Regions from separate parts of the Homo sapiens genome. Here region 2 is linked to region 1. A link means that fine-mapping ties the variant in region 1 to the expression of a gene that starts in the linked region. Tissue or cell type: lung. Region 1 holds a variant in brackets; the other region holds the start of a gene. All regions are shown on one strand. Distances are between the middles of the regions.

Region 1 (4,162 bases):
TTATATACCAATTCCAGCATCCGGAAAATGTAGAGAAGAAATTCCAGTGTCAGAGAGGATTAATTGTTCTAACCTGAAATTCAAAATGTACAATTTGATTACACAGAACAATGTAAAATGCTATGGGGTATCAACCAGACTCGGTTTGTAAATTTTTTTCCTACACCCTGGGTTTTTAATCCCATGTAAAATACTTAGAAACCATAAAGTCCAACTTAGGACATGCAAAGTGAACTCTTTATCCTGTATTCTAATGACTCCATAGTCACCTAATGGTTCTTGAGTACCTACTGCTATGTCAGGTGCTAAATGCGTCTCAGAGGAAAGAGACACGGTCTACTGCCCGGAGTTTAATGAATGAAGACTTTCCGCATTATCACCAGGGTCAAATTATTCATTCTTCAAATTATCTGGTACAGACATAGTCCACATTATACAGGGTTCACAAGTAAATTTTCTAAATGAATTCAAATGAAAATTTCCCAAAGGGAATTACTCAATTTAGAAATTCCATCATTGTTACCACGTTTCTATTGAGAAAGCATACATAGCATATGAAAACTGCTTCACTAAGAATTGACTGAACACTATTGTATCAGGCATTTAGGGGCAAATTACCTGGGCAGGTGGGCTATCAGATACAGCTGATTTTCATCAATTAATTGATTAGAGGAAAGATCTAATAACTTGACTGTCTGGAGAACATCTGTTGGCCTGTATGGAAAATAAAATTTTTTCACCGTGAATTTATCTCTTAATTGTTTTCAAAGATACAGCCTTAAAATCCCTGCATTTGGTGCGATGGAGGGCTGGGGATAAGAAGCAAGTAAATATGACTGTAAAGGGGCAACCTGAGTGGTCCCTGTGGTGATGCACATATTCCTGCCGGTATCAGTGTCACACCTAGCCTGTGATCCTATATCATAGTTTTGCAACTTGTTACCAATGGGGGAACCTGGGTCATGGGTACAAGTGATCTCTGTGTATCATTTCTTATAAAACTTCATGTGAATATATGATTATCTCAAAATAAAAAAATTTAATTTAAAAAACCTGCAGGCCAGGCACGGTGGCTCACACCTGTAATCCCAGCACTTCGGGAGGCCGAGGCGGGTGGATCATCTGAGGTCAGGAGTTCAAGACCAGCCGGGCCAACATGGTGAAACCCCGTCTCTACTAAAAATACAAAAATTAGCCAGGCATGGTGGCACGTGCCTGTAGTCCCAGCTACATGGGAGGCTGAGGCAGGAGAATCACTTGAACCAGGGAGGTGGAGGTTGCAGTGAGCCGAGATGGTGCCATTGCACTCTAGCCTGGGTGACAAGAATGAAACTCTATCTCAAAAAAAAAACAAAACAAAAAACCTGCATTTGCCTACATAATGAAACCCTTCTGTAAACGAAAATCTTTAAGATTCTGAATCCTTTAATTCAGAATCTGTTGTAAATTTTCCCACAGTTAGGTTAATTTTACATAGTAATTTAATATTATTAATTTAAAAAGGAGATGAGGCAACAATATATTTCAGAGAACAAAGTTTTACATGTACTTTGGTACAATGACCTTAAACAGATGATGCTAATGAAAAATACATTATTTAATCCTTATAGCATATCCTACAGAACTTCCATTTAGAAACAGCAAGTTGGCCAGGCACAGTGGCTCACAAGGTCAGGAGTTCGAGACCAGCCTGGCCAAGATGGTGAAACCCCGTAAAAGATGGTGAAACCCCGTCTCTACTAAAAATAAAGAAAATTAGCCGGGCATGGTGGCAGGCACCTATAATCCCAGCTACTCGGGAGGCTGAGGCAGAAGAATCGCTTGAACTCAGGAGGCGGAGGTTACAGTGAGCCAAGATCGCCACTGCACTCCAGCCTGGGCGACAGAGTGAGACTCTGTCTCAAAAAAAGAAAAAGAAAAAAAAGAAACAGCAAGTTAATACACTGATGCAAAACTAATATAACTCATGTCTTCACAAATATTTAATTCTGATGAGTTTCCTTTGATTAGAACCAATTAGTGAAATTCTAATTTGTGAAGGCAATGAATAATAAGCATTTTTCCTAATTCTTGTTTGCAAATCCTTCTAAAAATTAAGGTTAGATATAATTGAGACCATTTATTTACTCAGAATGATGATTAAATGGGGATAGATGCATTTAAGTAAGTGCTAGTTACCTTTCGGAAATGAAAATGTTGTTAGACTCAAGGTAGAGTTCCTCCAGGCCTGGGCACCCCGCGACACACCGCAGCACCTGGAAGAGAAACTCGGTTCAGGCTCAGGCGGCCTCTGCTGGCTGTTTCTTCCCGGGTGTTCATAGGAACCACCACAAGAATTCAGCTCAGTTACTGTTTCAGCAAACAAGTGCCTCACGGACAGTTCATAAGACTGTTTCAGGCCTGGAATAGTGGTGGGGGGTGATAAATAAAATGTTAAGGGGGTGCATTTTAATGCTGTGGGAGCACACACTGTGGGCACTTTGAGGCCTTGGAGGTACGTGTCAATGCATGGTTTAGGTAA[A/C]GCAGCTACGAGGTGGAACAGGAGATACTAACTGCACATATTATTATTTGATAGAATTTGCTTAACCAAAATAAGTAAATTGATGTTACACACCTTTCCTCAATTCTAAATGCCAATCTGGGTTTGTAAAGGATATGCTAATTTTTCATATCCTTTCATAAATTTCTCAACAATTATTTCTTCTTTCATTATTTTTTTAATTATACATTTTTTAAAGTTTTCATTATATATTTATGACAAATATTCTACATCCATGATTCTCTCCAATCAAAAGTTCTTTGAGATCGGGCACAGTGAGTTCATGCCTGTAATCCCAGCACTTTGGGAGGCCAAGGCAGGTGGATCACTTGAGGTCAGGAGTTGGAGACCAGCCTGGCCAACATGATGAAACCCATTACCACTAAAAATACAAAAATGGCCGGGTATGGTTGCACACGCCTGTAATCCCAGCACTTTGGGAGGCTGAGGCAGACAGAATGCTTGAGGTCGGGAGTTTGAGAACAGCCTGGCCAACGTGGTGAAAACCCATCTCTACTAAAAATACAAAAAATTAGCCAGGCGTGGTAGTGCACGTCTGTAATCCCAGCTACTTGGGAGGCTGACGCAGGAGAATCATTTTGGCCCAGGAGGCAGAGGTTGCAGTGAGCCAATATCACACCACTGCACTCCAGCCTAGGCAACAGAGCAAGACTCCATCTCAAAAACCAAATAGTTGAGATGACGCCCTTGGCCATGGCCAATTAGAGAATGGAATCATCTGACTCACCCATCCTGCAAACAGTCCTGCAGATAGCACAGGTTTTAAACTGGCTGTTAAACCTGCCCGTGACCTCACTGGCCTTGGCCACGTTCATCCGCATGGATGTGTGGTCCTTGGCACTGATGATGCAGTTGCTGGTGGAGCATTTCTGCAGCACGCACAGATCCACGAACTTGCTGGCGTCTTTCTGCATGTCGAGACCGTGCCTGCTGCCACCACACTGCGCATGAGCCTAATTTTTTTTTTTTACAAAAAAAAAAATTACAAAAAATTATTATATATTATATAATTATGTATAATAATATATAATATATATATAGCATCTACAGGATCTCTCTATGTTGCCTAGGTGGGTCTTGAACTCCTGGCCTCAAGTGATTCTCCTGCCTGGGCCTCTCAAAGTGCTGGCTGGAATTATAGGCGAGAGCCACCATGACCAGCCTCACCAACTATTTCTAAATTTTCTCACTGGAACTTTACTGCCATCTCCACCACTTCAATTTCTGTGTGCCCTTCCTAGTTTATTTGGAGGGTGAGATGCGTCTTGCTCTGTCACCCAGGCTGGAGTGCAAAGGTGCAATCCTAGCTCACTGCAGCCTCAAACTCCTGGGCTCAAGTGATCCTCCCACCTCAGCCTCCCAAAGCGCTGGGATTGCAGGTGTGAGCCCCAGTGCCAGTGTCTGGCCCCTTCTTGTCTTCCAGCTACATCTACACCTTGAGAGGGAGTAAGCGCCTCACAGAGGAGGGGCCCTAGGAAAGAGGCTCCATGGCCACGGGCATATTAAGGGCACAAGGGGCCCACCTGTCTCTCACTGAGTGGCCTCTGTGGCACTTCCTGGGTGAACATGGCTGGGAATGTATTTCTACACCCTTGGTTTGAA
Region 2 (4,162 bases), 66 kb after region 1:
AGTGCAAATATCCTGAGGCTAGGATGCGCTTGAGGAGACCATACAGTAGAGCAAACAGGAGATGAGAACGACATGAGATCAGCAGTGAAGCAGGGCTAGGTCACATAGGACCTTCGATGAATAATCCACTCTGAAGACTTCGGCTTTTTTTTTTTTTTTGAGACAGAGTTTTGCCCTTGTTGCCCAGACTGGAGTGCAATGGCACAATCTCGGCTCACTGCAACCTCCGCGCCTGCCCCCAGGTTCAAGCAATTCTCCTGCCTCAGCCTCCCTAATAGCTGGGATTGCAGACACACACCACCACACCTGGGTAATTTTTTGTGTTTTTTTTTAGTAGAGACGGGGTTTCGCCACTTTGGCCAGGCTGGTCTTGAACACTTGACCTCAGGTGATCCACCAGTCTTGGCCTCCCAAAGTGCCAGGATTACAGGCTTGAGCCACTGCGCCCAGCCAGTTTTTGTTTTTTTTGTTTTTGTTGTTTTTTTTGAGACAGAGTCTTGCTCTATCGCCAGGCTGGAGTGCAGTGGCACGATCTCGGCTCACTGCATCCTCTGTCTCCCGGGTTCAAGCGATTCTTCTGCCTCAGCCTCCTGAGTAGCTGAGATTACAGGCACGCACCACCACGCCCGGCTAATTTTTGTATTTTTAGTAGAGACGGGGTTTCACCATGTTGGCCAGGATGGTCTCGACCTCTTGACCTCGTGATCCACCCACCTCGGCCTCCCAAAGTGCTGGGATTACAGGCATGAGCCACCACGCCCGGCCGACTTTGGCTTTCACTCCAGGTGAAATGTGTAGTCCTTGGAGGATTTTTGAGAGGAAAGACATAAATCTGATTTTTTTTTAAAGGATCAACCGAGATACTGTGATGCAAACAGACTAAAAGAGGAAAGAGCAGAAACTACTGCAGTAATTCAAGTACGAGACAACGTAACTTGAACAAGTGAAGGTGATAACAAGAGCCTGGGAGTGTGGACAGATTTTAAAGGTGGAGAGTCCATAGGATTTGCTGATATATATGGAAGAGATTAATCAGGGATGATACCAAAGATTTTCATCTAGACAAATATTTCAGTAGTGACAATGAATGTAAATCCAATAAACCTGCTAGTCAAAAGGCAGACTGGGCTGGGCACGGTGGCTCACACCTGTAGCCCCAGCACTTTGGGAGGCTGAAGCAGGTGGATCACCTGAAGTCAGGCCTTCAAAACCAGTCTGGCCAACATGGCGAAACCCCATCTCTACTACAAATACAAAAAAAAAAAAATTAGCTGGGCATGGTGGCACACACCTGTCATCCCAACTACTCGGGAGGCTGAGGTGGGAGATATGCTTGAACCTGGGAGGCGTGGTTGCAGTGAGCTGAGATTGGGCCACTGCACACCAGCCTTGGGCGACAGAGCAAGACTCCATATCAAAAAAAAAAAAAAAAAAAAAAAGCAGGCTGTCCACTTAGATTAAAAAAAAAACCCAGAGATATGCTGTTTACAACAGTATATAAAATATGAGCATACAGAAAAGTTAAAACTTAAGAATATGAAAAACGTTTGAAGCAAGTATCAAAACACAGCGGCCGTGGCTAAATTAATGCCAGAGAAAAGAAAAGTCTTCTCTCTTCATCTCTACCTCCACTAACTTTCTCTAACAGTTTGGCAATTTGTTAACCCCGTCTTCCTGCCAGGACTGCTTCTCTGAGGATAAGGCTGTCACACCATCATTTGGATCCACCCACAACTTAGAACAGTCCCCATTTGGTAGTAAACACCAAGTAAAAATAGTTACTTTAGGCCGGGCGCGGTGGCTCACGCCTGTAATCCCAGCAGTTTGGGAGGCCGAGGCGGGTGGATCATCTGAGATCAGGAGTTCGAGAGCAGCCTGGCCAACATGGAGAAACCCTGTCTCTACTAAAAATACAAAAATTAGCCGAGCGTGGTGGCACGCGCCTGTAATCCCAGCTACTCGGGAGGCTGAGGCAGCAGAATCGCTTGAACCCAGGAGGCGGAGGTTGCAGTAAGCCGAGATCAGAGATCCGCGCCACTGCAGTCCAGCCTGGGCGACAGAGCAAGACTGTCTCAAAAGAACAAACAGTTACTTTAAGTGCTCTCCACCTATTTAACGTTATTTCTCTGTCATCACCAATGTTAACTGATTCGGAAGGACGAGGCTGTTCCTCTAAGGTGACACCTTGTAAAAGTCGTTGGTCGCCTGTACCATTTTCACCTCTTCCAAAGTGACATGCCAATTCTCTGAGAGAAGCTTAAAATGCTAGAGATCACGTGCGGCTACTCCTAAATAAGGCCTTCCAGGAGGCGCAGGGTGGCCCCAACCCAGCCGGCTGGACCGCCTCCCAGCGCACGGAGCAGGCAACGCCCGGCTCTGGCAATCTGGGAAGATTCCAGGAAAGGAAGAAAAGGCCAAGAGCACTGCAGGGTGACGCACCGGCCAGGAATGCTCGTTCCGAAAGCTCCCCGAACCTCTGAAGCTCACCTGCCCGCGGAGACTCCAGGTGTTCCCAGCAGCAGCCCCTCCAGCCAACTGCCCAGCAGCGAAGCTTGAGGCTCTGGCCGGAAGTGCTGTAGGAAGTCCCGCCTCCACCGGAGTGAGGTACGGCTGCTGGAGCATAGACGAGAATGTCAGCGACAGTATTGGAGGCCAGAGGAGTGGTCAGCCCACCCAAGCCCCGCCTCTGGGCGGGGGCCCAAGCGATTTCCGAGTGCTGAAACCTGGGATGACAGAGCAGCCCAGGGAAAGCGCGTGTTCCAGTTTACTAGATACCACAGAAGTGAGTTACAAATCCTGTAAGAGGTTCAGTTCCATGCGTATTGAGAGTCTACCACGTAGGCAGCATGCGGTGGTCAAAGAGAAGAATATAGTGTTGATACCGCCAAAACTAAAAAAAAAAAAAAAATTACCTAGTTAAAGCATAAGGCAGAATGAAAGTAAATGCAGTGATAGAAAAAATAATAGAAAAAGCAACTATCCTAGACATGTTAATTTCTGTTGAAACCGCCTTTGCAAAATTTTGACAGTAAGAGAAATCTGACATGGTTTACTCCTATCTTGATTCTAGCCTCACAGACTGGCTGTCTTTGCTCATTCCTGGGCACAGGACAAACTAACTTTGGGAGAAATTTAGTTTATAGTTTAAATGATAATAACCCTTCCCCAAAACTGCCCTTTTAAAACTAAATGAAAGGCCACCAAGTTAGGAGAATGAGAGGGTCCTGAATTCTTCTAAGTTGTAATTGTAGTTAAATGATTACCACCCATTATTCCACAGGTCACAAATTCGCATCTTCCCCAATCATTCCTGCAGATAACATCACTGTTGTAGAACCTAAGATTGGCCTTTTGAGATGTCTTTTCAGGTTTTTGCATTTCTGACAAGTGGATGGCCCCACCCTGACTCATCAACCTGGGGATCCACGAACCAACTCAGTGCAAGAGGACAGCTTCTACTTCTTATGATTTCACCTCTGACCCAACCAGTCAGCACTCCCCATTCCCTGGCCCCGTACCTGTCAAACTATCTGAAAAACCCCCTAACCTCTGAGCCTTTGGTGAGATGGATTTGAGTAACAACTCTGTCTCCCACGTGGCATGGCCAGCCTCGCGTCAATTAAACTTTCTTTACTGCAATGCCATGGTTTCTGTCAATTAATTTTGTTTGTGCAGCAGGCAGAAAGAACCCATTGGTGGATACCACAGACTCCACAACAAGAGCAGTTTGGGTAGAGTGAGTGTTAGCATTCCAAAACCAGACTGAAGTGAGGTGAAGTGGAAAGGAAATTGAGGGAGCAAAGCCAAATGACTCTTCCAAGAAGTGACCTTCTAATTGTCATATTAAATGGACACAAACAGTCAGTATCCTGCTGGATGTCTCTACTGTTTTATACTTTGATAGTTCACTCCTTGAAACTAGAAACTAGATATTACAGTGATTGTTTTTTCTTTGGAAGAGGGGATTAAAAACCACATTGGAAATCTGATAAAAGCTATCTACCTACACACAAATTTTGCGTATGATTTCAAGGACTGATTAATCCTTTGAAGCCCATGAATAGGCCTCAAAGGAATCCATGGATCCCAAACTAAGACTCTCCTCAGCAGGGCACGGTGGCTCACACCTATAATCCCAGCATTTTGGGAGGCCGAGGCAAGC

The links. PIP is the estimated chance that this variant, and not a neighbour inherited with it, causes the effect.
Region 2: it holds the start of TBCE, and the variant in region 1 is fine-mapped to the expression of TBCE in lung (TOPMed, PIP 0.99).

The regions. Positions count from the first base shown.
Region 1 is chr1:235,432,297-235,436,458 of GRCh38, reverse strand. It overlaps TBCE (tubulin folding cofactor E), which reads right to left. Exons shown (of 17, transcript NM_003193.5): 8 at 2,179-2,255; 9 at 619-714; 10 at 9-73. It also overlaps the pseudogene RPS21P1. Among named protein-coding and RNA genes, the nearest start is that of TBCE, 67 kb to the right of the region's middle. The variant A/C (reference allele first, on the strand shown) is at 2,522.
Region 2 is chr1:235,365,830-235,369,991 of GRCh38, reverse strand. It overlaps TBCE (tubulin folding cofactor E), which reads right to left and starts at 2,565. Exons shown (of 17, transcript NM_003193.5): 1 at 2,488-2,565. It overlaps LOC124904559 (a long non-coding RNA gene), which reads left to right and starts at 2,572. Exons shown (of 2, transcript XR_007066957.1): 1 at 2,572-2,782; 2 at 3,369-3,639. RefSeq lists enhancers at 2,266-2,605, 2,145-2,858.